Linked DNA regions of Homo sapiens. The protein of the gene in region 3 purifies or fractionates together with the protein of the main gene of each other region. This does not show direct contact. Each region holds a gene or a part of one and is shown on either strand. Other genes may lie near its edges. The genes, in order: DNAJA2, RNF216, URGCP, ASPSCR1, DNAJC7 and ACAD11.

The links.
Region 1: the proteins of URGCP (region 3) and DNAJA2 purify together in Homo sapiens (affinity purification with mass spectrometry; one large-scale study listed by BioGRID and IntAct). This does not show direct contact.
Region 2: the proteins of URGCP (region 3) and RNF216 purify together in Homo sapiens (co-immunoprecipitation; one large-scale study listed by IntAct). This does not show direct contact.
Region 4: the proteins of URGCP (region 3) and ASPSCR1 purify together in Homo sapiens (affinity purification with mass spectrometry; one large-scale study listed by BioGRID and IntAct). This does not show direct contact.
Region 5: the proteins of URGCP (region 3) and DNAJC7 purify together in Homo sapiens (affinity purification with mass spectrometry; 2 studies listed by BioGRID and IntAct, with this or other methods). This does not show direct contact.
Region 6: the proteins of URGCP (region 3) and ACAD11 purify together in Homo sapiens (affinity purification with mass spectrometry; one large-scale study listed by BioGRID and IntAct). This does not show direct contact.

Annotation. Positions count from the first base shown.
Region 1 is NC_000016.10:46,959,607-46,964,535, reverse strand, and holds part of DNAJA2 (dnaJ homolog subfamily A member 2), read left to right. Parts: intron 1-4,929. UniProt on the Homo sapiens protein: Co-chaperone of Hsc70. Stimulates ATP hydrolysis and the folding of unfolded proteins mediated by HSPA1A/B (in vitro).
Region 2 is NC_000007.14:5,739,491-5,744,419, reverse strand, and holds part of RNF216 (E3 ubiquitin-protein ligase RNF216), read left to right. Parts: intron 1-2,604; coding exon 2,605-3,447; intron 3,448-4,929.
Region 3 is NC_000007.14:43,874,972-43,879,900, forward strand, and holds the end of URGCP (up-regulator of cell proliferation), read right to left. Parts: intron 4,290-4,929; coding exon 1,696-4,289; 3' UTR 942-1,695; downstream 1-941. UniProt on the Homo sapiens protein: May be involved in cell cycle progression through the regulation of cyclin D1 expression. May participate in the development of hepatocellular carcinoma (HCC) by promoting hepatocellular growth and survival.
Region 4 is NC_000017.11:82,008,095-82,013,023, forward strand, and holds part of ASPSCR1 (tether containing UBX domain for GLUT4), read left to right. Parts: intron 1-942; coding exon 943-1,097; intron 1,098-1,391; coding exon 1,392-1,473; intron 1,474-2,707; coding exon 2,708-2,774; intron 2,775-3,448; coding exon 3,449-3,511; intron 3,512-4,061; coding exon of another isoform or gene 4,062-4,136; coding exon 4,137-4,189; intron 4,190-4,929. UniProt on the Homo sapiens protein: Tethering protein that sequesters GLUT4-containing vesicles in the cytoplasm in the absence of insulin. Modulates the amount of GLUT4 that is available at the cell surface. Enhances VCP methylation catalyzed by VCPKMT.
Region 5 is NC_000017.11:41,978,897-41,983,825, reverse strand, and holds part of DNAJC7 (dnaJ homolog subfamily C member 7), read left to right. Parts: exon of another isoform or gene 1-189; coding exon 190-263; intron 264-1,424; coding exon 1,425-1,571; intron 1,572-1,818; coding exon 1,819-1,971; intron 1,972-4,929. UniProt on the Homo sapiens protein: Acts as a co-chaperone regulating the molecular chaperones HSP70 and HSP90 in folding of steroid receptors, such as the glucocorticoid receptor and the progesterone receptor.
Region 6 is NC_000003.12:132,575,680-132,580,608, reverse strand, and holds part of ACAD11 (acyl-CoA dehydrogenase family member 11), read left to right. Parts: intron 1-1,050; coding exon 1,051-1,117; exon of another isoform or gene 1,118-1,727; coding exon 1,728-1,813; intron 1,814-3,593; coding exon 3,594-3,665; intron 3,666-4,682; coding exon 4,683-4,837; intron 4,838-4,929. UniProt on the Homo sapiens protein: Acyl-CoA dehydrogenase, that exhibits maximal activity towards saturated C22-CoA.

The DNA.
Region 1 (4,929 bases), on a different chromosome or scaffold from region 3:
TCTGTTTGGAGTCCCTGGAGCAACACTGAACACTGGTGAAGTTAAGGGCATCATGGTGAGTTCCTAAGACGGGCTTGTGTAAGAAAGACTAACAAGGCAGGTGCAGTTAGAAGCACTGTAAGAGTCAGTTTTAGTCCTGGCTTGGTTTCTTCCCCCTGCCCCTCAGTTGGAGTTTCACTCTTGTTGCCCAGGCTGGAGTGCAATGGTGCGATCTCGGCTCACTACAACCTCTGCCTCCCGGGTTCAAGTGATTCTCCTGCCTCAGCCTCCCGAGTAGTTGGGACTACAGGCATGCTTCTTCACTCCTGGCTAATTTTTATTTTTAGTAGAGACAGGCTTTCTCCATGTTGGTCAGGCTGGTCTCAAGCTCCCAACCTCAGGTGATCTGCCTGCCTCAGCCTCCCAAAGTGCTGGGATTAAAAGCGGGAGCCACCGCGCCTGGCCTTGGTCTTTTTTGTGTGTGTGTGACGGAGTCTTGCTTTGTTACCCAGGCTGGAATGCAGTGGCACGATCTTGGCTCACTGCAGCCTCCACCTCCCAGGTTCAAGCGATTCTCCTCTGGCCTGGTCATTGACTAACACTTTAACCATAGGTAATCTTACTGTCTCAGTTTCTTTGTTTATGAAAATAAGGGCACTGGGTGTTGGACCAGTTGATCTAAGGCAGCCTGTATTTTCACTGTGAAACTCTGCTGCTCTGTCGATTTGGTTTTTACTTATTGGGTACCCAAGTGAGCTATCCTTGAAAGGGTTCTGGGATTTTTTTTAAAAAAAATATTTTTTTAGAAGCTTCTGAAGAATGTGGTCACTAGTGTATGTTTTGGGGGGTTTTTGTTTTTGAGATGGTCTTGCTCTGTCGCCCTGGCTGGAGTACAGTGGTGTGATCTGGGATCACTGCAACCTTCGCCCCTGGGCCCAAGCAATCCTCCCATCTCAGCCTCCCAAGTAGCTGGGACAACTGGTGCACCATCATGCCCATCTATTTTTTTGTTTGTTTGTTTTTTGGGGTTTTTTTTTTTTTTGTATTTTTAGTAGAGACAGGGTCTTGCCATATTGCCCAGGCTGGTTTTGAACTTCTGAGCTCAAGCGATCCTCCTGTCTCAACTTCCCAAAGTGCTGGGATTACAGGTGTGAGCCACAGTGCCCAGCCTAGTGTATGTTATTTTGATTTTAACATTGCACTTGTATATTTTTAATGTCCATATTGTATACTGTAGACCCTACTCAAAGAATAAATCTGGAACTATTCATGAAAAACCCCTCCAGTAATCACCTAAATTCTTGAATGTTAGAAGCACTTGATAGGACTCTAGCTTTGTACTTGATCACATTTACTCATGTGTTCCTCTGAAAATCATTACATCACAGGTTAACCACCTTTTTAGTTTGCCCTAAAATTTTCTCCTATGCATAAGCCCAATGAACACGGAGAAATGGTAAATTTGTATTATGTTCAGTGAAAGGTTATTCTTTTTAATTCTAAAAAGGTGGGCAAGCTGATTATCATTTATAATTTAAAGGTTATATTTGATAAAGAAGGAGATCGTCCTTCTGTGGTGATCATTTCTTCAAATAGAGTAAATTTTAAAAATCACTTTAAGAATCCAATAGAGAACAACAAAGCCATATTGAGATGCAGGTTTTAGGAATTTGGTAGTAATCCCTCACAAGGTCAGACTTGATCTCCTGGACAATCAGGGCATGCTAGTCAGCTTTCATGACTCAGCAAAGCTACAAATTATGTATTTTGGCTTTTTGTGGAAATTGCCAACCCTACAGATAGCAAACGTCTCCTCGGTTGTCAAAAAGTAAGAGTAGTTTTTAGAATTCTGCCTTTGGGTCTTGTAGAATGAAATATTTACAAGATTTGCTATTTGTTAACATTTTAGCTACTTCCTTGTTCCTTCAGTCTTGCTGCTGTGCACACCACCATACCAGGAATATGAGGGAGAAAGCTAGCAAGACAGCTAAATAATTGGAAATTCTGCTTGGAGGTTAGACTGTGTTGTAAAATGGTACAGACAGTGCCTGGGCATTTTCATTGATAGAATCCTTGGAGTCGTTTGGGGTTCGTTGTCAAATGATGTCTGGCAGTGCAGCAGCATGATAGGAAGTGAAGAAGGAATGCTTATTTGCAGAGGAAGGATGACTTTTTTTTGGTTTGAGGCATGTCAAACTGATGGTAAAACCTTTTTTATCCCTAAGTTTAGTTTTTAATGTTGCTGCATAATTAAATTGGGTTTTTAAAAGTAGATCATTGGATTTGGAGGCAAAGGACTTAAGGTCTGGGCCCCGTTTACTAGCTTTGGCTTCCCTGGACTTTTTGGATATTAAAGAGTCAAATGAGATTATGAATAAGCTTCTTTCTTGGGGCCTGTGGGGAGGTGTTGGGAAGTAACTCATCTCTGAAAATTGTTGGCAGCAGTGGAATTGGCATGGAATTTTCAACAGAAGGCAGATGTAGCTAGTTGTCTAAAGTAGAAAATAGAAGATGGTAAAGGTTAGAATGGAAGTTTGTCTCGTTCCTTCTTGGGAGTGCTGTATCATCTATAGTCATCATCCTGCCATGTCACTTGTCAGTGTGCCTGTTTGTGTGTCTCGGTGGTCTGGTTACCATAGTGCACTTGTACAGCATCAAACCACAGAACCTGGTGATGTTAGTCACGCCTCTATAACCTGTACTTTTGTTATTCAGAAATATGACTTCTAAGTGTTTTCTGGTCTAGTGCTTGGTGGTCCCTCCTCATTAATCTTGTTTTTCAGAAACTCTCTGGCATCCTTGCTTGTTTATTCTGTTTAAACTTTTAACATCAAATTGTTTAGCTTCCCCGCTCTGCTGCAACAACCATCCTGATAATCATAATCATTTTTTATTGAAATCACTTTCAGTTGAACTCTCCTGTACAAGAACGTGATGTGTATCTCTTCCTGTTCCCTTTTCTTTTTTTTTTTTTTGAGACAGTCTTGCCCTGTCACCCAGACTGGAGTGTAGTGGCGCAATTGTATTTTTAGTAGAGATGGGGTTTCATCATGTTGCCCAGGCTGGTCTCAAACTCCTGACCTCAAGTGATCTGCCTACCTCGGCCTCCCAAAGTGCTAGGATTATAGGTGTGAGCCACCGTGCCCTGCCCCACTTTTTATTTTTGTTTTTATTTTTGAAATGGGGTCTCACTCTGTCACCCAGGCTGGAGTGCAGTGGCGCGATCTCTGTTCACTGCAACCTCCACCTCCCGGGTTCAAGTGATTCTCCTGCCTCAGCCTCCCAAGTAGCTGGGACTACAGGCTCATGCCACCACACCCAGCTAGTTTTTGTATTTTTAGTAGAGACAGAATTTCGCCATGATGACCAGGACCTCAGGTGATCCACCTGCCTCAGCCTCCCAAAGTGCTGGGATTATAGGCATGAGCCACTGCATGCATCCTAAAATAGTATGACTTTAACAAAGGATATTTGGTAAGATGGTTCTTAGAACACTGGCATTTTACAGTATACTTAGCATTTATTTTAAATTTATTATTATTATGTTTAAGAGACAGGATGTCCTTCTGTCTCCCAGGCTGGAGTGCAGTGGCTGGATCATTAATGAGGAGGGACTGCCCCTGCAGGCTCCAAATCCTGGGCTCAAGGGATCGTCCTGCCTCAACTAGCCTAGTTTATGTTTTAATTTTTTGTCTCCCTATGTTGCTGTTTTGAACTGGCCTCCCAAAGCTCTGACCCTATATTTAGCTTTTTTAAATTTTTTTATTTTTTTCTTATTGAGATGGAGTCTCGCTGTGTCGCCCAGGCTGGAGTGCAGTGGTGTGATCTTGGTTCACTGCAGCCTCCGCCTCCCAGGTTCAAGTGATTCTCCTGCCGCAGCCTCCTAAGTAGCTGGGACTACAGGCGCGTGCCACCACACCTGGCTAATTTTTGTATTTTTAGTAGAGATGGGGTTTCACCATATTGGCCAGGCTGGTCTTGAACTCCTGACCTTGTGATCCGCCTGCCTTGGCCTCCCAAAGTGCTGGGATTACAGGTGTGAGCCACTGCACCTGGCCTACTTAGCATTTTTAATGCGTTGAAAAATCCTGCATTAAAAAAACTATTGGTCCCATTGTGAGGAACACTTGAATATATGTGCATACATAACATACCTTCTTGGATCTCAAACTTTAGCACACACACAAGAATTGCCTGGAGGGCTTGTTAGGACTACAGATGCTGGATCTTGCCTGCCTTGTTTCTGGCAGGAATGGAAGTGGGGCCCAAGAATATGTGTTCCTAACAAGTTTCCTGAAGCTGCTGGTCCAGAACCACACTTAGAGAATCATTGGTTAAGGTAATGGTTTAACTTTGTTTAATGAGTAAATTTAGGAGAGTAACATAGGAAAAGAACCTGTCTACCAGATTTTCTATAAGTGAACCGGCCAGGATTGTTCTTTACAAGAAGAGTGACCATTGTAAAATCTAAGCAAAAATTGCAGGTTGGGCGTGTGAAGTTGGATGTATTTTTCCTACACATTGAAGGCTCAGAAACATTCTTTGTGCTTATTCTCAATACCTTTTGCATTACCTAGTCCATAGGCTTATAGTGTAATATTGAATGAGCCAGTTTTGCATTTTAGTGAGATGTGAGACTTGTTGGTATGTGTGTGAAGCACGGAATTGAGCCACTTGACTTTGCTGGCTGGGTGTTAACTGGTTGATGTTGGGTTTTATGTTGATCTTGGACCCTCCCCCCTTCCCTGTTACGATCATGTCTGGGGAGCACTCCAGGGTGAGCCTGTTCTGTAGGAGCCCTCTGGGCATTCTGTACCTTTTTCACCAGAGGCAGAGTCTGAAAGTGGGCAATAGTTGCAGAATATACCTGGCACTGTTTTGAGGGCCTCAGTTCTGTTGCTCTTATATATGCCATTGTTTACCAGTTCCAGTACACCTTCCTCATGGAAG
Region 2 (4,929 bases), about 38 Mb from region 3:
TCTCTTCTACAACTCCAGTTATGTGTTTTGAAGACCTTTTTGTTCTTGACGTGTTCTCTTATCTAATGTTGCATTTTGTCTATGCCTTACTATGGCTATTCTGACCTGGCTTTCAATGCACTAATTTCTCTCTTCAACTGTATTTACTTAAAATGCTATATATCCATATGTAGCATTAGTTATTGTATTTTTAGTTTTTGTATTAGTTATTGTATTTTTCCATTCTGGAATTTGCGTTCGATTCTTCTTCTTCTTGGCTGCAGTTCTCAATCTAGTCTTTGATTTCCCTAAACATGCTGTTACTTTAGAATTCATGTTGTTAATTTCACTGTGTGAAACCCTTGTATATTTGTTTCTGTTGTCTGTTACTTCTCTTGTTTTGATTTTCTGTTGCTGCATTAAGTTCTTGTATGCCTAGTTATTTTTGATTGAGTGTAAGTCATTGTATATGAAAATTTTGGGATTCTGTATGATGTTGTTTCTCTATAGAGGATCTTAATTGGTTTCTTGAAGAAGAGTAAGAGCACCAGCACCTCACATTCAGGGAGTTAAACTCTCCACGCTGCGATTCAGTTCCTGGGAGGTCCAGGGTATTTCCAGCTTGGCCCTTACTTCAGTGGCATAGTCCTCAGGGACCCACCCTAAAGCCTGAGATTCACCATCTCCTTTCTTCTAGGGACTTCCCAGAGGAACTGTTGTTACCAGTTTAGCATGTATCCTTCCAGGTCTTTTCTTTGAATTTGTATGTATCCATGTGTATATACATGTGGGTACATATACATACTTTTAGAAATGATTTTGTTTGTGTCTTATTGACATATTTTAAGTAAATGGAATCATTCTGTGTATGATTTTGCAGCTTGCTTTTCTTCACTTAATGGCATTTCTTAGTGAAGCTTCCCATTTCAGTACAGACTGAGCTACCTCTTTTTTTGGTAGGGGTCAGTTGTAGAGTATTTTGTAGAACAAATAAGTAATAGTTTATTTAACCATTCACTCAGGGACAAACTTCACAATGTCTCTAGGCTTTTTTCTGTTTATGCTGAATATTCTTGTATATGCCCTTTTTCGATAGAGTTTATAGAACAGTATGAAAAAATGATGACAGACATACATTTTTTATTTATATTTATGTATTTGTGTATTTATTTATTTATTTGAGACAGAGTCTTGCTCTGTCTCCAGGCTGGAGTGCTGTGGTACCATCTTGGCTCACTGCAACCTCTTGACTCCCTGGTTCAAGCAATTCTGCTCCGTCAGCCTCCCGAGTAGCTGGGATTGCAGGCACACGCCACCATGTCCAGCTGATGTTTGTATTTTTAGTAGAGACGGATTTTCACCATGTTGGCCAGGATGGTCTCGATCTCCTGACCTCGTGATCCGCCTGCCTTGGCCTCCCTGAATGCTGGGATTACAGGCATGAGCCACCACGCCTGGCCTACGTTTTTTATTTTAATAAATAGTGCCAAATTTCTCTCCTAAATTCACCAGCAGTAAATGATAGTATAAGAATTTTCACACATCGGCCAAGCGCGGTGCCCCACACCTGTAATCCCAGCACTTTGGGAGGCTGAGGTGGGCCAGTCATCTGAGGTCAGGAGTTCAAGACCAGCCTGGCCAACATGGCAAAACCCTGTCTCTAACAAAAATAGAAAAATTAGCTGGATGTAGAGGTGTGCGCCTATAATCCCAGCTACTCGGGAGGCTGTGGCAGGATAATTGCTTGAACCTGGGAGGCAGAAGTTGGAGTGAGCTGAGATCATGCCATTGCACTCCAGCCTGGGCAATAGAGCGAGACTCTGTCTCAAAAAAAAAAAAAAAAAAAAAAAAAAAGATTTTTCACCATCCTCACCAATGCTTGGTATTATCTAATTTAAAAGTTTGCCGGTCTTACAGGGAAAAAAATACTGTCTTGTTTTAATTTTTCATTTTGCTAGTTACTAATGAGATTTAGATTTTTTTATATGTTTTTTGAACATTTCTTATTCTTCTGATGTGTTAGCATTCTTTCATTGTTGTATCTGCTGTGGAGTTATTTTTGTTTTAGTAGTCTCAGGTTAAATTATAATTCAGGGCTGGGTTCAGTGGCTCATGCCTGTAATCCCAGCACTTTGGGAGGCTGAGGGAGGCGGATCACTTGAGGCCAGGAGTTTGAGACGAGCGTGGCCAACATGGCAAAACCCCATCTCTCTTAGAAACACAAAAATTAGCTGGACATGTTGGCACATTTTTGTAATCCCAGCTACTTGGGAGGCTGAGGCACAAGAGTTGCTTGAGCCCGGGAGGCAGAGGTTGCAGTGAGCCGAGATCGCACCATTGCACTCCAGCCTGGGTAGCAGAGGAAAACTGTGTCTCAAAAATAAAAATAAATTATAATTCAAACTATATCTCAAGCTTTAATCTATGAATGACTACTTTGATTCTTACAGATAGTATATAGTGTAATCAAATTTCAGTGTTAAGATAAATGTAAAGAATAGGTATTGTTAAGGGAGATGGTGTTTTTGTTTCTTTCCTGTCCTATCTCGGAAGCTCAATATAAGTACATAAGGAGGGATAGGCATAGGAAAGAAATTGAATTATTAAAATTTCATTTTTTCTTAGACAAATAAACCTCAGAGATCACGACCCAATCTCATCAAACCAGCTGCCCAGTGGCAAGATCTGAAAAGGTTGGGAGAAGAAAGGCCTAAAAAGTCTAGAGCAGCATTTGAATCAGATAAGAGCAGCTATTTTTCAGTGTGTAACAACCCATTGTTTGATTCTGGGGCACAGGATGATTCTGAGGATGACTACGGTGAATTTCTGGATCTTGGGCCTCCTGGAATCTCTGAATTCACTAAGCCAAGTGGCCAAACAGAAAGAGAACCCAAGCCTGGACCGAGTCATAACCAAGCAGCAAATGACATTGTCAACCCCAGATCAGAGCAGAAAGTCATCATCTTGGAAGAAGGTAGCCTTCTTTACACAGAAAGCGATCCTTTGGAAACTCAGAACCAGTCATCCGAAGACTCAGAGACAGAGCTGTTATCAAATCTAGGAGAGTCAGCTGCTCTAGCAGATGATCAGGCCATCGAAGAAGACTGCTGGTTAGATCATCCTTACTTCCAGTCTCTGAACCAACAGCCCCGTGAAATAACAAACCAGGTCGTTCCTCAGGAACGGCAGCCTGAAGCAGAACTGGGCCGCTTGTTGTTTCAGCATGAATTCCCAGGGCCCGCTTTTCCAAGGCCGGAACCCCAGCAAGGTGGGATTTCAGGCCCCTCTTCTCCTCAGCCTGCCCATCCTCTAGGAGAGTTTGAAGACCAGCAGTTAGCAAGTGATGATGAAGAGCCAGGTCCAGCCTTTCCAATGCAAGAATCTCAAGAGCCCAATTTGGAAAACATTTGGGGGCAAGAAGCTGCAGAGGTAGATCAAGAGCTCGTTGAACTACTAGTGAAAGAAACGGTAAGTTTTATTTTATCAAGTAAATGTAGACACTACATATACTGAGTTTTTTTCTTTTTTTTTTTTCATTGCAAAAAAAAAAGTTGTTGGTATGCGTGGACTTCATTTTCCTAAGAAGTATATATCTAGATGTACAGAATAGAAGAGACACTCTGAAGACATGAAAATGGAATCAGGGTTCCTTTACTATACTTAACCTTCAGGAAGCTCTCTGGGATTCTAACTGCATATCATGGTGGCCTGGTGCTGTCATACCTGCAGTCCCTTGTTTTTTTCAAATTCCTTGAGTTCACTCCAAATGGAAACCCTTAAAGCAGTTTTATTGAATTACCTAGACCTATGCTGTCCAATATGGCACTTACTAGCTCCTTGTGGCTGTTTACATTTAAATGTCTTACAGTTAAATAAAATTTTCCAGTGGCATCAGTCACATCTTAACCTTAGTAGCCACATGAGGCTAACAGCTTACCTCATCATCAAGCATGGAGGACAGTGTTTCTGTCATCCAACAAAGTTCTATTAGTGGTGATATTAAGAGTAACACAAGGGCTGGGCGTGCTGGCTCACACCTGTAATCCCAGCACTTTGGGAGGCCAAGGTGGGTGGATCACAAGATCAGGATATCAAGACCATCCTGGCTAACACGGTGAAACCCTGTCTCTACTAAAAAAATTAAAAATTAGCCGGGCGTGGTGGCGGGCGCCTGTAGTCCCAACTTCTTGGGAGGCTGAGGCAGGAGAATGGTGTGAACCCAGGAGGCAGAGCTTGCAGTGAGTCAGGATCGTGCCACTGCACTCCAGCCTGGGCGACAGAGTGAGACTCTATCTCACAAAAAAAAAAAAAAAAAAAAAAAAAAAAAAAAAAAAAAGGTGTTACATCTGGTAGCCACTATTTGCCTTCAAACAAGTCCGTTAACCCTACTTTACCCAGGCGGGTTTTTTTTGTTTTGTTTTTGGTTTGTTTTTTTTTTGAGACCGAGTCTCACTCTGTCACCCAGGCTGGGGTACAGTGGTGCGATCTCAGCTCACTGCAACCTCCGCCTCCTGGGTTCAAGCGATTCTTCTGTCTCTGCCTCCCGAGTAGCTGGGATCACAGGCACATACCACCACGTCTGGCTAATTTTTGTATTTTTTTAGTAGAGACGGGGTTTCACCATGTTGGCCAGGCTGGTTTTGAACTCCTGACCTCAGGTGATCCGCCTGCCTCGACCTCCCAAAGTGCTTCGATTATAGGCATGAGCCACTGCACCCGGCCACCCAGGTGTTTTTATCTAGGCACTAGGTTGTGTGCTGCTTGAGGGCTGGCATGAGATTGTAACTTATTTGTGTTTGGATTCCCTTTGTCTAGACAGAGATGCTCAATATTTGTTGAAGCAATGAAGAATGGATCTGTAAAATGGGGACAGAGAACCAGATCTCTCAAGACCTTTCTAGACCTCATCTTCTATGTAGACAGATGAATCTGGGAACTAGTGTTGAATTT
Region 3 (4,929 bases):
TTGGATGTCCCGGGAGCAGCAGGTGGAGCATCTGGGGAATCCAGAAATCCACAGCAGGCAGCCTGCCAGGCATCTCCAGAAGAGGGACCAGGAAGCCTTTTGTTCAAGAAAGGATTCCAGTCTAGAAGGCTGGTGAGCTCCCGAGAGCTAAAGGCTCCCTTGCTGTGTCTAGTGAAAGGAGGACAAGAAACATGGTAGGAGCTCTTGGGGAAGGGCCTGGTTTCTCTGAAGTCAAGAAACACAAAGAGAAAGAGGCTCCAAGGTCTAAGCAAGGCCCAGAGGATCAAGCAGAGCTTCCTAGAGCTGGTGAAAGGGCTCAGGTGGGGTTCTGAGGCCCAGTGAGGTGACACTGGCCTCTGGGAAGGGCCAGCACAGGCAAGGACTCCAGCGGGAAAACTGACAGGGCAGAACTACCAAGTCCTTGGCCAAGCCTCTGGTTCGAATGGTGGCAAGTGGGCTGTGGATGAGGTCGGGGAGGATGTAAGAGGAGGCGCTGGCACTGACATGGCTGCCCAGGGGTGAGCCCAGAAGCCATGGGAGTCTGGAGAGGATGAGAGGAAGAGATGCAGGGCTGGGCGTGACAGCACCACCCTTCATCCGCTCCAGCTCTGCCCATCCAGGTGTAAGCTCTGGGGCAGGGGATTACCTGCTCTAGGCTTCCTTTTCCTCAACTGTGAAATGGGGTGACAGTGGAAAGACCTCAGAGTTACTGTGAAGGTATTTAGTTTTAATCCCCAGTAACAGCCTGAAGAATGGCTCCTGCCTTAAAGAGAGGGAACAGGATGGCTTTTTTAAGTGGTGCATCTCTGTGCTATCTACCATTCCAGATACTGCCTGTACCGTACACCCTCCTCAGACAGATGCTGCTATCCTCTTTGAGAAACAGGAGAATTAAGGCACAGAGAGGCAGAACCTGCCCATTACCATCACTTGTGCACTCATTCATTTAACAGACATTTATTAAGCGTCTACAATGTGCCAGGCCCTGGGGACACAGAGCTGGAGAATGTACAGTCCCTGCCCTCAAGGAGCTCACAGTCTGGGGGGACAGACATGTAAACACATGAGTTACAACGCGCTGCGTGAAGTGTGTGGCAGAGGTATAACAAAGTGCTGTGGGGCACAACAGAGCGACCAGTGAACTCTTCCTGGGCAGGGGTCAGGGAAGCCTTCACAGATCAGTCAATAAATACGGTGCCATGGGAGTGCCTTGCACACCACGGGCACTCACATCTTGAATGCTGGTCCACTGGAGGCCCTTGGGTTGGGCGGGAGCAAGGCCTACTTCTGCTTCCTCAGGACAACTTCCCCACCTCTGTCCTGGGACCACCTGCCCGCCTGGGCCTGCAGTGACTAAGGACGCTGCTCCCACTCCAGGGGCCAGTGACAGAGAGCAGCTATACAGAGGGCCCACCCCGCAGGATCCTTGACAGGAGCTGAGACAGAACAAACTGCTGCTTGTCTCCCTACCCTGGGGGCTGTGATATTCTTGGTAACATCTCTGAGCTGGTCTGTGAGGTCACTTCCTCTTTTAACACTGTTGAGGAGACTCCAAACCCTGTCTTTTCCTCGTCTTCTCATGTCGATTGGGCACCAGCCATTCTCAGGCACCAGAGCACAGCCCCACACGGGTGCCCCATCAGACAGGGCTGCCCACAGCAGCCTCCTACACCTGAACTGGGTTTCTCTGCACACTCACAGCCGTCTCACCAGCTCAATGAGCTGCTGGATGTTTTTGTTTTGGTTCGACAAGCCGTTCCTGATGTTTTCGAGTAGGCATCTCTTCAATTCAAATATGGCTTCACTGTAGGCCAAGCTCACTGCGGCCATGGGAGGTGCTCCGTGCCACAGGCCTGGGATGTGCCAGATGTGCTGCTTCTCAGGGTCGCAGAAGGCCAGGCCTGCCAGTGCCCGGAAGCCGTCGCCCTGTTTCTCCATCTGGGCTGCAGCCCTGCTCAGGTCACCAGGTGGATCCAGGAGCTGTCTCTTGTCTCTGGGCCTAGGGCCGGGAACAGATACATCATGAAGGTTCTGGTATACAAACTGGTAGTTGGGCATGTGCCCCGTTTTTTCTAACCTCAGAAATGCATGCAGAATAGCTGCTGGAATGTCCTTGGTTTCAGCTAGACTGATCACGGTGACATTGCTCAGTCCCATGAGCAGAGTGGCCAAGGAAGCCTCCAGCTCAAATCTGTCCCCAGCTGACGTCAAGGCCCCACCTATCAAGCCCCCGGAGTCTATCACCAGGATGTGGTCACAGCCCAGGTCCTGGCTGAAGCCCTCAGCCACTGTGATGAGCTGCATGAAGGCCCCTCGAGGACCGCAGCTCTTCCCTGTGGCAAACCGCAGCCCAAACATGGTGTTGAGGAGTGTGGACTTGCCCGTGCCTGGCACCCCGACGGTTGACAGAACCACCAGCCTTGACCGTCTCTCCAGTCGGACGTGCAGCTCCTTCAGGAGCCCTGTGACCCAGCGGACGGGCATGCTCAGCGTGCTCCCATCGATTAGCTCCAGAGGCAGCCCTGTCAGCAGCAGCTCCGAGGCCAAGCCTGGGAAGTGGGCAAAACGCCTCTGGCCTGCCGGCAGCCTCCCTGCCTCCACAAGACAGCTCTCAGCCTCATAAAACTGTCCCATCTCCCGCAAGAAGTGTTCCACCCCTAGGGGCTCAGGCCAGAGCGGCTCCCCCACGTCTGTGGTGCCCCCATGCTTTGGTCTCAGGGTGAGAAGCGTCTCCGGAGGCTGTCTCAGTCGCGGCTGGGCCACCCGTGCCAGGCCCCACTCCATCCACCTCAGGAAGTACTGCTTCTCACTCAAGGAGGGGCTGCTGATCCCCGAGATGAACTCCTGCACCCCCGAGGAGGGATCATGGCCGTTCTGCTGCATTCGAAGTTCTAGCAGCCGCCGCCTCAGCTCAGCCCTGTGCTTCTCAGGGGGGTCCACGGCCCACTGGAGCTGGCAGAACTCCTTCTCCACTTGGGCTGCCTTTCTCCAGGGGTCCCCCTGCAGCCTCAGCTCGTCCCTTCTGTAGGCATCCGAGTCTTTGATTTTCCTGGTAATCCTCTCCATCCGGTCTTTCGCTTTCTGACACTCCTCACAGTCCTCGTCGACCTTTAGGCCCAGTTTGCGGGCTGCGTGCGCCATGTCCTCCACAGATACCCGCCTGCAGGGTGCCCGCAGCACATTCCCAACGATGGCCCGGATCCTCTTCACGAAGCTGTCGCTGTCAGTGCTGCTGACCTTTACCAGGACATGTGAGTGGTCTATTTTCAGCACAGGAATTAACTTATTCAGAAATCTCAGGTTTGTGTTGCGCTTCCCACGGTAGGGACTCAGGATGAAGTAGTATTTTGTGGTTGACTCCTTCATGGAGTACAGCAATTTGTATTCCTTCTTACTGATATTGTCAGTCAATATAAACACAGCGGAGGAGATTTCTGTCAAGAGCTTAAACTGCAGCCAGTGAGACCCGATGTCACCTCTCAGGTTCAGAAAGGCCACAGGTTCTGGGAAAATGTCCAAGTCCTCCCTTCCGCTGGGAAAAAACCAGGAAATTTCTACCAACCCATCCGAAATCTCCCGGGCATTGGTGCCCAAGTTGAGGTCCCGATGCCAGAAGCAGTCCCACTGCCTGTGGCCCGGGCTGAGGACGGCGTTGAGAAGCTGGGACTTGGAGTTGCTACTGACGTCCATGCGCACGAAGGCGAAGGCGGGCGCCCTGGACAAGACCACGCTGTCTTCCCGGAAGCTCCCCATGCCCCTTGGGGGCTGGGACCACCATGTCCTCACAATGCCCCGCATGGCCCACAGCAGAAATGTATGGTAGTGGTTCTCCGAGTCAGGCAACACGAGTGGGAGTGCAAACTGGCAGAGGGCCATTTTCAACGCTATTTCTTGTTGCAGGAAACTGTCTGAGGAGAGCAGCAGGGCACAGAGAAGGTCTAAGGGGTTCACTGGCGTATCAGGGGTGGGCAGCTCAGAAAAGGAATAAATGTCGGCAGCAAGGTCATCAGCTGGGTCCCAGTAGATGATCTCCTCTTCCATCTGGCTCTCCTTCTCCACAGGCCTGGCGTCTGGGAGCACGTCCAGCACCATAGTGGTATTCCTGGCATCAGCATTGAGGGCCTGCAACTTCCTGAGGAAATTCCAGGGCAAGTCTTTGGGAACCTGAGGGGCCCAGTTCTTCATACTGTCAAAACTGATCTGCAGAGAGTCCTGGAGGCTGAGTTTCTGGACCTGGTACGTCTCTAGGCCCAAAAGTGACAGCATTTCTTGAAGCCTGCTTCTCTCCACTGTGGAAAGAAATGAAGACATAAGTGCTCACCCTGTGTTTCTGAGCTAGGGGCCAGGGAAGAGCTGGTGAAGGAGAGCCCAGCAGGATGGGGAGAGTGACGACCCCCTTCAGAGAGCAGAGTGCAGGCACAGGAGGCTCAGGGTGTGCTCAAGGCTGACCTGAGATCAAGGCAGGGCTGGAACCCGGACATCAAGGTACAATAGGTACCAACCTAACCACAGATATATGTGACATTAAACAAAAGAAAGAACAGAAATAAATAAGCTACATTTAACAACTGGAAGAGTTCTTGCAAAAGCCATATTTCTGGTCTTTCTAGAAACCTGTAAGATCTAACACTGAGCTCAAAATTAATTGGCTACAGTGAGCAGCACATGACTCCTACAAGCTGAATGCAGGCCTCACCTCCCCACTGTGTTGCTTCCGTGGGCTACTCAGAGTCACCGGGAAGTTCCCACAGGAGTCATAATCACTGAATCACTCTCTGGCTTTCTAGTTAATGTTTTTTTGTGTTTTTTTTCTCTCTAGAAATAAGAGAATATTTTAAAGGAACTAGAAAGAAATCACTAAGCATAAAGAGTCAGCAATTATAGCTAAACAACCATTTTGCAAACCTGAAATCAATAATGCAGGTTTTC
Region 4 (4,929 bases), on a different chromosome or scaffold from region 3:
TGTCCGGAGGGCAGCCCTGGAGACACCTGGGACAGGCGTACCTCTGGCAGGCGCACCCTGGCTGTCACCCAGTGTGGGCATGGTGGGGGTGCTGGAATGCTGTGTAGGGCAGGAGGCAGCAGCCCGTGGCTGGGTGGGAGACTGCAGGGTAGACGGGACGGGACCAGGAGGGTTGTTCGCAGGGACTGCCAAGCCATCCCCAGGTGTCGAGAGTGTGAGGTAGGAGTGGGAGCCCAGAGCCGGCTCCAGGCCACCCCAACTCCCGACAGCTCTCGGCTGTTCTGTGTGAGGGGGGACGGGGCCGAGTGTGGGTCGGCGCAGTGCTGAGGTGTCCCACGTACCCCAGCACTGTGCTGAATGCATTGAAATCACTGCCCAGGGCTCCGCGAGCTGCACGGCCCGGCTTTGTCAATTTCATTGCTGTTGATGCCAATTAGGGGTGACGCTGTCCCTCCCGCATCCCAGGGTGGGCAGAGGGAGGGGCCGGCTTGTTCCCTGGGGGCAGGCGTGCATGGATTCAGCCTGGCCATGGAGCTGTGGCCAAGAGGGCAGCGGGGGCAGCTGGACTGGGGTTTTTGCCGACGCTCTAATTTGGCGGCTGTCGCCACCCCTCCCCCCCATGGAGACCCTGACGTGGCCTGAGCCAGACTCCAGGGGCCATGTGCCCTGCTGGGGAGCAGGGGCTCAGCATCAGGTCTGGTGCACTGACTGGGAGAGGGGGGTCTCCAGCCCTGGACAGGCTCTGAGTGGGGTGGGGTCCCCCAGCTGCTGTGCCCAGCCCTGCCCCCAGGACCTGGCCTTGGCCCTGCGCTGGCCGGGGCCAGGGAGGGAGTGGGCCCAGCTCCCAAGTCTGTGTGACCACCTCGGCTGGGGCACTGACAGCCCGGGGTGCGGAGGGCCCAGCCCGTGACACCCGCCGTCAGCCGCGCCCTCTGCCTCCAGCCCGTGGACCGGGAGCCCGTGGACCGGGAGCCGGTGGTGTGCCACCCCGACCTGGAGGAGCGGCTGCAGGCCTGGCCAGCGGAGCTGCCTGATGAGTTCTTTGAGCTGACGGTGGACGACGTGAGAAGACGCTTGGCCCAGCTCAAGAGTGAGCGGTGGGTGCCCCCTCAGTGCCTCCCGGCATCTTCGCGCCAGGGTTTGCCCCATCGGGTGCTTGTGCTGCCCGCTGTCCCCAGTGCCAGCACTGGCTCCCGGCCCAGGTCCCTGACAGGCTGCCCTTAACAGGACCTCAGAGGGTTGGGGCCCAGGGAGGGGCGTCCAGACCTTCCTGCCTTGTGTGGGGAGAGCAGCCCACTCCCACCCTGGAGGGTGCAGGTGAGGAGCCCGGGGCCTGTTGCCAGGGCCCCCATTCTGACCAGAAGCCCTGTTCCTTCCCCTCCTCACCACAGGAAGCGCCTGGAAGAAGCCCCCTTGGTGACCAAGGCCTTCAGGGAGGCGCAGATAAAGGAGAAGCTGGAGCGCTACCCAAAGGTCTGCAGACAGGATGTGGGGGCGACTGAGGCACAGCTCTGAGGGGGCCCCCCGTGAGGTCTGTGGACGGGATGGGGCGACTGAGGCACAGCTCTGAGCGGGCCCCCTGTGAGGTCTGTGGACAGGACGTGGTGGCGACTGAGGCACAGCTCTGAGCGGGCCCCCTGTGAGGTCTGTGGATGGGACGTGGGGGCGACTGAGGTACAGCTCTGAGGGGGCCCCCTGTGAGGTCTGTGGATGGGACGTGGGGGCGACTGAGGCACAGCTCTGAGCAGGGCCCCCCCGTGGTGGCGCGCATGCCCTTAGTGGCCAGTTGATCCTCCCCTGCTCATGATTTAGAATGAAACCTTTTTTTTTTTTTGAGACGGAGTCTCTCTCTGTCGCCCAGGCTGGAGTCAGTGGTGCCATCTCAGCTCACTGCAAGCTCCGCCTCCCGGGTTCAAGTGGTTCTCCTGCCTCAGCCTCCCAAGTAGCTGGGATTTCAGGTACCCGCTACCACTAGCTCGGCTAATTTTTGTTGTTTTTTTTTTTTTTACTAGAGATGGAGTTTTACCATGTTGGCCCGGCTGGTCTCGAACTCCTGACCTCAGGTGATCTGCCCGCCTCGGCCTCCCAAAGTTCTGGGATTACAGGCTTGAGCCACCACACCTGGCTGAATGAAACTTTAAACAGCACATTTGAGCCGGGCGTGGTGGCTCACGCCTGTAATCCCAGCACTTTGGGAGGCCAAGGTGGGCGGATCATGAGGTCAGGAGATCGAGACCATCCTGGCTGACACGGTGAAACCCCATCTCTACTAAAAATACAAAAAATTAGTCAGGAGAGGTGGCGCACGCCTGTAGTCCCAGCTGCTCGGGAGGCTGAGGCAGGAGAAAGGCGTGAACCCGGGAGGTGGAGCTTACAGTGAGCCGAGATCATGCCACTGCACTCCAGCCTGGGCGACAGAGTGAGACTCCATCTCAAAAAAAAAAAAAAAAAAAAAAAACCAGCACATTTGAACCCAGGTCAGTGTGGTTTTAGAACGCAGGCCGCTGTGCACACACACGGCACTTGGCTGTCTCCATGCCCAGCCTGCCACGGGGGAGTCAAAGCCCAGGCCCTGATTGGGGGTGGCTGCTTCTGCCTGCCTCAGCCCTGGTGTCCATGGCCCAGCATGGGCCGAGTGGGGAGGCCACGCCCTGGTCCCTGGTGCAGCTCCGGCCGTCCCTCCAACCCTTCCACTTGTCTGGCCTAGGTGGCTCTGAGGGTCCTGTTCCCCGACCGCTACGTCCTACAGGGCTTCTTCCGCCCCAGCGAGACAGGTGGGCAGCGCTGTGGGGTGTCCGGGGATGGGGGGCAGGGGCCCATGGGGCCTCTCCCGGCTCCTTCCTTCCAGGCCACAGGACTGCAGCCACCTGGCCTGCGGGCTCCAGGGCACTGGGTGGGTGCGGGTGCTGATGTCCCCTTGGGGGTGCAGAGGCATCCCAGTTCGCAGAGTGTCAGGCAGGCTGGGCGCTTGCTCCAGGTGCCCGGCCCCAGCTCAGGGAGCCCGTGGTCCTGAGTGCTCACGTCGCCCACCTACTGGGCATGGGTGGGGCAGAGGGGCACCCAGAGGAAGGCACCCTACCCCGGGAGGAGGGCAGTGGTGCTGTGACATTCAGGGGCTTGTGACCTGTACCCAGACGGCCGGGCGGCAGCAGCCCAAGGTCACAGGGGCCTCCCCCAGGGAAAGGGAAGCGCTTAGGCTGGGGCGGGGGTGGGGCTGGGGGGCAGCGGGTGGCAGTGGGAGTGCTCTCCAGCAGGGCGGGGGTCCCAAGTGTGGCCCGCACGGTGGCCCAGCCACGCCGAGCACCTGGAGTGCTGTGGGAGGAACAGGGCTGAATTCCCACCCCTCGGGGAAAGGCCCAGGAGGGTGGGAGCAGTGGCCCAGGTGCTGGGGCAGCCCGGGGCTGGCGTGGTGGAAGAGCTGTCTGTATGTTCTTTTTCTCCTCTGCAGTGGGGGACTTGCGAGACTTCGTGAGGAGCCACCTGGGGAACCCCGAGCTGTCATTTTACCTGTGTACGTTTTTTCTCCTGAGCCCACTCCTGCCTCCAGTGCTCGGGGCCTTGGTGCTGTGGGCACACCGCCCGTCCCAGCTGGGGCTCGTGGCAGCTTCTCCACAGGAGCAGCATCTGTGGCCTCCCGCCCAGGTGCCTCCTGCAGCCCATGGTGTCTGTGTGGAGACCTAGGAGGGCCCTTCTCCCCGAGCCAGGCGGTGGGAGCCAGGCTTCCTGCCTTCTCTCTCAGCGCCCTGCTCCCCTCTGGAGCCCTGCTGCACCCCAGCCTGGTCCCCACCCCTGGGGCTCAGGCCACTCCTGCCCGAGGGCTGTGGGAAGGGTGGGTGGACAGGGAGTGGCTGGCCTCCCTTGGAGGGTGTCTAGGTGGCAAAGGGTTAGGCTGCCCACTGCAAGGGGAGCCGGGCTGCACGGGTGGTGTCCCCTGCAGGTGGGCCTGCCCCCCACCGGCCCTTCCGAGCCCTCAGCTGGAGTTTCTGCAGCAGGAGTGTGGGCACAGGGCGTGCTCGTGAGGGGCTCTTCTGCCCCACTTGAGGCGTCACCCCCATCTGCAGGCCTGTCTTCCTTCGGGCGCATGGATGGGCGAGGTCCACGGTGCTTCCTAACACGTAGGTGCCTTCTCTCCTCAGTCATCACCCCTCCAAAAACAGTCCTGGACGACCACACGCAGACCCTCTTTCAGGTACCTGAGGGCCTCCCTGGGGTGCTGCGGGGCGGGGCCCTCCAGGGAGGGCAGGACGAGAGCGTGAGGCCTCGGGCAGGAAGGAGGGGCCTGGCAGGCGCTGGGGCAGGATAATAAAGCCTTTGAGAGCCGGTGGGTTCCGAGGGGGCCGTGCGCCTCTGAAGTTGCTTCTGACACGGCTTTCCGGCCTCCTCTGCTTCCTGCCTGGCCCCGGGTGGGAAAGGACCTGCTAGGCGGCCTGCCTGAACTGAGGCCGCTTGGAGGTCTCGGCCCCCCTGGGCTGCTGTGCTGGGGCCAAGGCGGCAGCAGTCCCTGCCCAGGGGTCTGGGTGAGGAAGGGCCCGGCAGGCCTCGGAGCAGGGCTCAGGGAGCCCCAGAGGGACCAGGCCCTCAGCTGGAGGCGGCCGCCTTGGGCTTCAGCTGCCCCTTCCCCCTGCCCGGCCTCTCCCGCTGGCCCCCCGGTCCCTGCTAGGAACGCCCTGGTGCCCATAGCTGTCCGCTGCTTCTGTGGGTCCCTGCCACCTCCCTGAGGGCTCCTGAGGGTGGGGCCAGGGTGAGGGTGCCGGGTTCCCAGCCCTGCTGGGCCGCCCTCCAGAGCCAGAAGCAATGAATGTCCTGTCCTTGGCCTGTGGGAGAGCTGCCTGGGGCCTTCCGAAGCCCTCTGGCCTAATGGTTTCCTCTTCAAAGCCTCTTCAGATATTTTAATTAGCCACAGAGGCGGGTTTTTTTTTAAGTGGCCAC
Region 5 (4,929 bases), on a different chromosome or scaffold from region 3:
TCTCTTTTTATTTCCTTGAGGACTTGTTAGCTAATTTTCTCTCACTGCTAGATTAAGGGCTCCTGTTTCTGAAGCATCTTACCAGAAGTGTGTGTCTCTTGCTTGAGCCATGCCTCTTGCCCTAGAGTGATCCTGAGAACCACTGCTATTTATGTCTTAGTGCTGTATTGCCTTGTATTTCCTTCTCAGTTACATGGACACAGAACAGTATGAAGAAGCAGTACGAGACTATGAAAAAGTATACCAGACAGAGAAAACAAAAGGTAAGTTTAAAAGCATTTGTTTTTTAGGGAACTGTGTGGACTTCGTAGGCCATAAATCTGTACACAAGGTAGTTTGATTCAGGGATCAGGGATCTACCTAGAACTTATTTGATCACCAGCCAGAAAGAAGTGAACAAAGGCTGGGCGTGGTGGCTCACGCCTGTAATCCCCAGCACTTTGGGAGGCTGAGGCAGGCAGATCACCTGAGATCAGGAGTTGGAGACCAGACTGGCCAACATGGTGAAACCCCATCTCTACTGAAAATACAAAAAATTGTGGGTATGGTGGTATACGCCTGTAATCCCAGCCACTCAGGAGGCTGGGGCACGAGAATTCCTTGAACCCAGGAGGCGGAGGTTGCAGTGAGCTAAGATTGCGCGACTATACTCCAGCCTGGGTGACGGAGCGAGACTTCATCTCAAAAACAAAAACAAAAAAAAGAAAAAAAAAGTGAACAGATATCTTGGGTTGGGGCATGAGGCACCTATTTTCTGGTTCCAGATCCTCCCTGTCGTTTTCATTTCATTTTTTGTGTGGTGAGGCTAAAGTGAGGAACCTAAGTCTGGGTAGATTTTCTTTTTTCTTTTTCTTTTTTTTTTTTTTAAGATGGAGTCCTGCTCTGTCACCCAGGCTGGAGTGCAATGGCATGATCATAGCTCACTACAACCTTTGCCTCCCAGGTTCAAACAATTATCCTGCCTCAGCCTCCCGAATAACTGGGATTACAGGCACATGGTACCACGCCTGGCTAATTTTTTGTATTTTTAGTAGGGATGGGGTTTCACCATGTTGGACAGGCTAGTCCCGAACTCCTGACCTCGGGTGATCCATTCTGTCAAGCTTGATTCCTCCCATCTTGGGCCAAGGGCCCCTCCTTTCTTTCGTGCTACCGAAATAGAAGCAAACCTGTGTTTAGAGTTCCCTTTTCTGTCTCATTTACCTGCATCTCTCATTGATGCAGGCCTCCCAAAGTGCTGCGATTACAGGCATGAGTCACCGTGCCTGGCCGAGTAGATTTTTTTTCTAATCTCCAGAAGAAAGCACCGTAAAAGTCCCTGGCATGGTTAACAAGGCCTCTAACTCCCAGGCAGCTGGGCTGAGACCTGGTGAGGAAAAAACCAGAGTCAGATTTGTCCACTGATGCCAGATGTCTTCCTGTAGAACACAAACAGCTCCTAAAAAATGCGCAGCTGGAACTGAAGAAGAGTAAGAGGAAAGATTACTACAAGATTCTAGGAGTGGACAAGAATGCCTCTGAGGACGAGATCAAGAAAGCTTATCGGAAACGGGCCTTGATGCACCATCCAGGTAGAGTAGGTGCGGGGAGTGGGCTCAGTGGGAAGAACCCGCAGGGCAGGCCAACTGCCACACTCAGTCCAGAGGGGACCCCTTGGAGAGGTCCTTCAGCTGAGAATAAGGTGTTGCAGACTTGTGGACCCTCCAAATTTTGGGAAGTGCCAAATTCCAAAATTAGACAGAAAGTAGTTTTTCTCTTAAACTTTGTTTTCTTGAAACTTTGATTTCCACTGAGTTGTTCTTTTACTCCCCACTTTAGATCGGCATAGTGGAGCCAGTGCTGAGGTTCAGAAGGAGGAGGAGAAGAAGTTCAAGGAAGTTGGAGAGGCCTTTACTATCCTCTCTGATCCCAAGAAAAAGACTCGCTATGACAGTGGACAGGACCTAGATGAGGAGGGCATGAATATGGGTGGTGAGTTGGCTGGGGCAGCCTGGGATGAATTTGACAGCTGTAGAATGTTAGAATTTTTTCCAAAGATGCTCCAGAGGGAGAGTCTATTTGGGCCAAATCTGATCCCTGGTCCAAACAGTAATAGACATGGAGTCAAACAAATGCAGTCAAATGTGGCAGGTTCACAGTGTGCAGTGAGCTCTGAGGAGGCGAGCACTAGCAAGGGAAGGCTTGGAAGTGCAGAAAAGCATGGCCCCATGGGTCATGCCTGTAATCCCAGCACTTTGGGAGGCCAAGGCAAGCAGATCACTTGAGGTCAGGAGTTTGAGACCAGCCTGGCCAACATGGTGAAACCCTGTCTCTACTAAAAATACAAAAATTAGGCTGGGCGCGGTGGCTCATGCCTGTAATCTCACCACTTTGTGAGGTCAAAGCAGGTTGATCACCAGGTCAGGAGTTTGAGACCAGCCTGGCCAACATGGTGAAACCTCGTCTCTACTAAAATACAGAAATTAGCCAGGTGTGGTGGTGGGCGCCTGTAATCCCAGCTACTCGGGAGGCCGAGGCATGAGAATCGCTTGCACCCAGGAGGCGGAGGTTGCAGTGAGCCGAGATTGTCCCACTGTACTCCATCCTGGGCGACAGAGCAAGACTTTGTCTCAATTAAAAAAAATAATAAGAAGAAAGAAAAAAGAAAAATTAGCCAGGTGTGGTGGTGCACACCTGTAATCCCAGCTACTTGAACCCGGGAGGTGGAGGTTGCAGTGAGCCAAGATGGCGCTACTGCACTCCAGCCTGGGCAACAGAGTGAGACTCCATCCCTCCCCACTAAAAAAGCAAAGCATGGCCTCTTTGGGGATCTGCAGGGGGCTTGGTCTAGGGAAGATAAAGGGATAGGGTGCTAGAGGCAGGTGGTGGTGGAAGGCCGGCAAGTAGCTGGATCAGAGCTCACAGGCCATAAGGGCTGTATGTGGTAAGGAATATGAGCATTTTCCTATTATCTGGAAGTTCTTTTTTACCCACTGCAAAGTGTATGCTGACATTTATGTATGTCATACATTCCTATAAACACTCACAGATTTTAATTTCCCAAAAAGATTTAGCATGATATAAAGCACACCTATTGTCAATATTGTTGCTCACTGTGGGCTGTCAGAGATAAGAGGCCCTGACCTGTGAGCTGGGCGCGGTGGCTTACGCCTGTAATCCCAGCACTTTGGGAAGCCAAGGCGGGCAGATCACCTGAGCTCAGGAGTTCAAGACCACCCTGGGCAACATACAAAATACCAAAAAAATTGTACTCTCTACTAAAATACAAAAAAATTAGCTGAGCATGGTGGTGCATGCCTGTGGTCCAAGCTACTCAGGAGACTGAGGCACCAAAAACTCTTGAGCCCAGGAGGCAGAGGTTGCAGTGAGCTGAGATTGCGCCACTGTACTCCAGCTTGGGTTACAGAGTGCGACTCCATCTCAAAAATTAATTAATTAATTCAGTCAGTCTTCACTCTAAGTTGTCTGCCAAAAAATTTGCTGGGCATGGTGGCTCACGCCTGTAATCCCATCACTTTGGGAGAACAAGGTGGGCGGACCACAAGGTCAAGAGATTGAGACCATCCTGCCCAACATGGTGAAACCCCGTCTCTATGAAAAATACAAAAATTAGCTAGCCATGGTGGCGCACGCCTGTAGTCCCAGCTACTTGGGAGGCTGAGGCAGGAGAATCGCTTGAACTCGGGAGGCGGAGGTTGCAATGAGCTGAGATCGCACCACTGCACTCCAGCCTGGCGACAGAGCAAGACTTGTCTCAAAAAAAAAAAAAAAAAGAGGACCTGACCTGTGAATGGTGAACAGACCTACCATCTCTTCCACTAAGAAAATCTATTGGGATTTTGTTTTTTGTTTTGTTTTGTTTTTTGAGACGGAGTCTTGCTGTGTCACCCAGGCTGGAGTGCAGTGGCACCATCTCGACTCACTGCAACCTCCGCCTCCAGGGTTCAAGTGATTCTTCTGCCTCAGCCTCCCGAGTAGCTGGGACTACAGGTGTGCGCCACCACGCCCAGCTAATTTTTGTATTTTAAGTAGAGACGGGGTTTTACCATATTGGCCAGGCTGATCTGGAACTCCTGACTTCGTGATCCACCCACCTCGGCCTCCCAAAGGGCTGGAATTACAGGCGTGAGCCACCGCGCCCGGCCTTTTTTTTTTTTTTTTTTTTTTTAAGACTGAGCCCAGTCTGGGTGCAGTAGTGCCATCTTGGCTCACTGCAACCTCTGCCTCCAGGGTTCAAGCAATTCTCCTGCCTCAGCCTCCTGAGCAGCTGGGATTACAGGCATCCACCCCCATGCCTAGCTAATTTTTATATTTTTAGTAGAGACAGGGTTTCACCATGTTGGCCGGGCTGGTCTTGAACTCCTGACCGCAAGTGATCTACTGGCCTTGGCCTCCCAAAGTGCTGGGATTACAGGCGTGAGCCACTGTGCCTGGCCTTCCATTGCAACTTATTTATTTATTTAATTTTTTTTTGTTGTTATGTTTTTGAGACATGGTCTTACTCTGTCACCCAGGCTGGTGTGCAGTGGTGCAGTCTCAGCTCACGGCAACCTCCACCTCCCAGGTTCAAGAAATTCTCCTGCCTCAGCCTCCTGAGTAGCTGGGATTACAGGCACCTGCAGCCACACCCGGCTAATTTTTATATTTTTAGTAGAGACGGGGTTTCACCATGTTGGCCAGGCTGGTCTCAAACTCCTGACTTTGTGTGATCCGCCCATCTTGGCCTCCCAAAGTGTTGGGATGACAGGCGTGAGCCACCGCACCCAGCCGGAATTTAAAATAAGAATGATGGTACTATATAGATAATGCTGAGTCCTCTCCAGTTCAGTGTGGGGGTATTTGTGTTTAATAAACCTAGGTTCACCACAATAAACATGTTCCTCTGCCTAGCAGTTAAGAAGATCTATAAGCAGTCAAAAACTAGTGAAG
Region 6 (4,929 bases), on a different chromosome or scaffold from region 3:
AACTATTCACATTTCTAATTGCTTAATAATTACCATTAATACTTTTTATTTTGTTTGATTGAATTAGGATCTAAGTAAGGTCTAAAAATTGCTGTTGGTTGATACGCCTTTTAGGTCTCTCTCTTTTGATCTTACAAGCTACTTCTCTATCTCTCTTTTTTCTTTTTATTGCAATTTAATTGTTGAAGAAACTGGATTAGTTGTCTTATAGATTTCCCACAGTCTGAACTTTACTGATTACATTCCTGCAATGTCCTTTAATATGTTCCATGGAGTTTATCCTTTTAACTCCTGGAATTTTATAATATTATTCAACTATTTGACATCATTCCTAACATTTCTCATTAAATCTTTATATGATTTCAAATCTCCTCAAACCTCTTTTTATAATAAATCAGAAAAAAGAATCCGATCATTTGTTTGAGACTTTGTACAGATGTGTTTAACTTAATCTGATCCAGTTGTGTGCAGCCTTGTAATTGAAAATCTAGTCAAATGGTAGTTTTCCCAAGGGACTAGACTTACTAGTAAACATTAAAAGTAATTTTTGCAAAAAGACCCTTGTAGGCAATTGCCACAGACCCCTGAACTGTGATAAAATAAAATTTTGCATTAAAATGAAAAAATATTTTTAAAATTTGACCCTTAAGAAATTAATAAAAGAACCAGGCTTATTGAAAGTGGGATCACAGCCTCATATACGTTGACATATAAAATATTATATTAGACATATAAAATTTCTCAGCTTTTCTAGCATGCTGATGTCTGAAATGGTGTAAATGGGAGAGGTGGCAGTTCTTTCATGCTGCTTTGACTTCTGGTTATTTTTGTGTAGCAGCTTTCATTGATGGGGTCCATTCTTGGCCTTGCCTAATCATTTTTCTTGGATGATATAGAGTGTTACAAAAGAATTATTATCTTAATGAATCAGGAATGTTCTCTCTATTTGTTTTCTGACATAGGTAAAGTGGGAAGGATTAGAACCTTCAAGGTGAAATGTCAAACTAGAAATTTCCTTTTATAATCTGCTTGTGTTCCCCTTGGTTTTAGGAGCTGGGAATCCCAAGTGCAAAATTGCAATTGTTTTGGGAAGAACTCAAAATACTTCTCTCTCCAGGTAATTAAACAATTCTGATTGAGAAACCTGTGTAGGAATGAGCCAGTCTTCCTCCTATCTAGGTAATTTACTTAAAATTCACTGTTTGGACTCACAAATCATAATGTAAGATATGAGAGTAAATGTCATATATTTGTATTTCACAAGTATTTTCTAACAGGTGTTTTTGGAAAACATTATAGGGAGTATTGCTGAACATTCTTCGCTGTGGAATTTTCAGTATTAGAAAGTGTTGCTAAATTATCAAAGCTGTTTGGATTAAATTATCAGACAAATTTTTTCAGACCTGTGTAATGAAGTGATTAGATGTTTAGATCAAAGGCAATAATCTTGAAATGTTTAATTATATATATAAGTTCCCAGTTACCATTGTTGAGCAGTGAGAAGCTTCAATCAAACAACTCATTTATTTTCAAATCATTGTTTCTGTTCCAGATCACAGCCTGCATCAGACTATGTTGGTGTACGTCTTTTACACAGTTCCCATTCCAGTCATCACTGCTTACATGACTACATGAAAACATCAAAAAGACAATTGTGATTCTGCTTATTATCTGTTTTATTTTTCTTCTTAGCAAACTTTTTCTAATACAATTTTTCTTTTGACTAGACACAAACAGCACAGCATGATTCTTGTTCCCATGAACACACCTGGAGTAAAAATAATAAGGCCTTTGTCAGTTTTTGGCTACACAGGTAGGTATCCAATAAATATGACCATGCATTAGCAAGCAGGAAGGCTAGAATATGCAGTAACATTGAAGGCAATAGCATTTTAATGCATAAGATAGATTCTTAGATATTCCTTTGTCTGTGACAACTGTCTTAATATAAATGCTGGTGGAGTTCAGAGTAGAGCCAATAAAAAGAAATAGTATAGCATTTATGTAATTTATAATTATATAAATTATAGAATTTATAGAATATAAATTCTGCCTTTTTGGGAAAGGGCAGATTGTATTTAAGGAAGAGCAACACTACCAGTCTTTTCTCTGTCATTCATAAAAATGGATTAATGCACAGATAATCCACAATAAAATTATTTTTATCTCCAATTTTAGCCCTCTTAATCAATCAACTTACAAGAACTGTTAAAAAGCAATGAGTTTTTGACTTATTTGAGTGCAAAATTTTCCTTCCTCTGCCCTTGGGTGGGACTTCTAAGAAGCAAAGATCCATTTGTTTCCTGCCACCTACTGTGGCACGTGTTCATTGTGTACAATAAATATTTGCTAAGATCACCCTCTCAGCAAGTATTTGCTTAGCCACCATGCCCAGCTAATTTTTGTATTTTTAGTAGAGACGGGCTTTCACCATGTTGGCCAGGCTGGTCTCGAACTCCTGACCTCAGGTAATCCACCCTCCTCGGCCTCCCAAAGTGCTGGGATTATAGGTATGAGCCACCGGGCCCAGCCCCTGGCTTTCTTTTTATCATTGAATATGACTAATGAATATGTTCAAGTGGCAGATATAAGACTTGCAGTTTTATAGAATCACTTATCAGTTAAGATGCAGCTGTAGAGTATACCCACAGGGTAAGCATAGGTGGCAAGATGGGATGAGCAAGCTTGCTGGAGAAAATTGCATGTAGGAAATTGTTGGGTTGCAGCGAAACGGCCGCAAAGATACCAAAAATGCGTTTATAATATAGTTGAGCTGCAAATAATTTCCATTGCAGAGGCTACATTTGATTATTCAGTATGAAAACTTTACTAGCACCTCTCCAACTCCCTGTGTCCAGGGCCAAAAGAAACAGTGTGGAGAAGGCTGATTATTGTCTCCTCTGACAGGAAAAGGGTGTAGAGTTAGCATGAGATTATCTCTAAAACTTGGCAGGGAGAAGGGGTGATGCAAAGATAAAATGTGAACGTGTTCCTGGCCTCAGTGTTTCAAATGCCAGTATTTTCAAGAGACGAACACACAGTGGAACAAGTCTAGACTGGGAGTAAACCTACCTGAAGGTCTAGTTTCTGTATCATCACTAATGCCAAGCCTGCTCTTTCCCCTCAAGCAGGCCCCTGTCATCTTTAGGCGTTGGTTTCCACAATGATAAAATAAGAAACATGGATTACATTACTCATTTTTAATTTTTGAAACATTGAAACTTTTTTCCATGCAAATTGTTTGGAACCCCATATGTAAAATATTTCAAAGAAGCAGCAATAATAAAACAAATAAAATACTCTGGCTGGATCTATGGAGCCTGGTCTTCCTTTTTCCTAGCTCTCTGAAATTGTACTTCAGAGAATGAATTAGAAAACATCTGGATCAAAGGGTTTCTCTTCTTGAACAGTTGATGAGTTTTCTGGGCTGCTGGGTCCTGGGGTTCAGGGCTGAGGCTTACCTCAGAATGTTCATGCCATATGGATCTTTGAAATCCTATTTTCTTCAAGTAATTATATTTCAGCAGATTAAGAATATGTGACTCTTTTTTAGTCAACTCCTTTTGCTCTAAATTTTATTTTCTATTTTATAGATAATTTTCATGGAGGACATTTTGAGATCCATTTTAATCAAGTGCGAGTTCCTGCCACAAATCTAATACTAGGTGAGTTGAATTTGGAAATGATTCTTCAGTATTGTACATTAATATTTCAGCTCTAAATCTGGAAAAGATAAGTCTTTCCAGATTTAGACCTGAAGTCTACCTTGATTTAGATATTAGGTTCGTGCAAAAGTTATTGCGGTTTTTGAACTGCAATTACTTTTGCACCAAGGTAATTGCAGTTTTTGGCAAAAGCCGCAATTACTTTTGCACCAACCTAATACTTTCCCTTCTTGTTTACTCCATTTGTCAAGGGAAAGTTTTCTGTTTGGCGGATTTTCTTACATGGAATGGTGAGGTTTTATTTAAGTGTTGGATGTGGTTTTCTATATCACATCAATTGAAAAGATAATATGAAAATTATATAATTCAGAGCAATACACTTTCTCCTAGAACATGATCTGTAGGCCTCTATTTGTTTTAAGAAAACCTCAGTACTTTATGAATTCAAGTATTAGATATAAGTTAGAAGCATAAATAACTTTGAACACTGTATGCCATCCTCTTGCTTATTAGAATACTATATCCCTTTCAAAGAACATCTAGAATACCACCTCTTCCAGGAATGTTTTTGTGTTCATCCCATCCATTCACCAGGCCCCTGATACCTGCCAGGCCCTGAGGTTATAATGATGAACAGAAAATCTCTTCTTCCTTTGCCTTTGTTTCTCTCTGTATCTCTTACCCTTACCCACTCTTCTGGATTCTAAACTCCTAGTACAGGGACTATGTGTTATTCCAACTTTGTATCTATTGCAGCATTAATAAAATAGCTTATGCATAGTACATACTTAAGAGACAGTTCTGAAATTTGAAATGTTTAATGGTGGTGGTTTTAAAAACATAGAAATCAAAATTCCCATGAATTCATAGTGAACCTTATTATAGAACTGACTTTTTTTCACTAGAAAGCCATTTTTATTAAGGGCAGCTCATCTCTTTCCCAGGATTTGTATAAATAACAAAAGGAATGGGCTAGGCCATTTTCACATTCCCCCTTTTTTTCCCCTTTCTTCCCAGGTGAAGGTAGGGGATTTGAAATTTCCCAAGGCCGCCTTGGACCTGGCAGAATCCACCACTGTATGAGAACAGTAGGTTTGGCGGAACGCGCTTTGCAGATCATGTGTGAGCGGGCAACACAAAGGATAGCTTTCAAGAAGAAGTTGTATGCACATGTGAGGACGATTACTTATTTGAATTTATTGTAGCCCGGTGCACTACACTAACATTGAACAAAAACATTACTTGTGAGAGACAGACTTTCTCT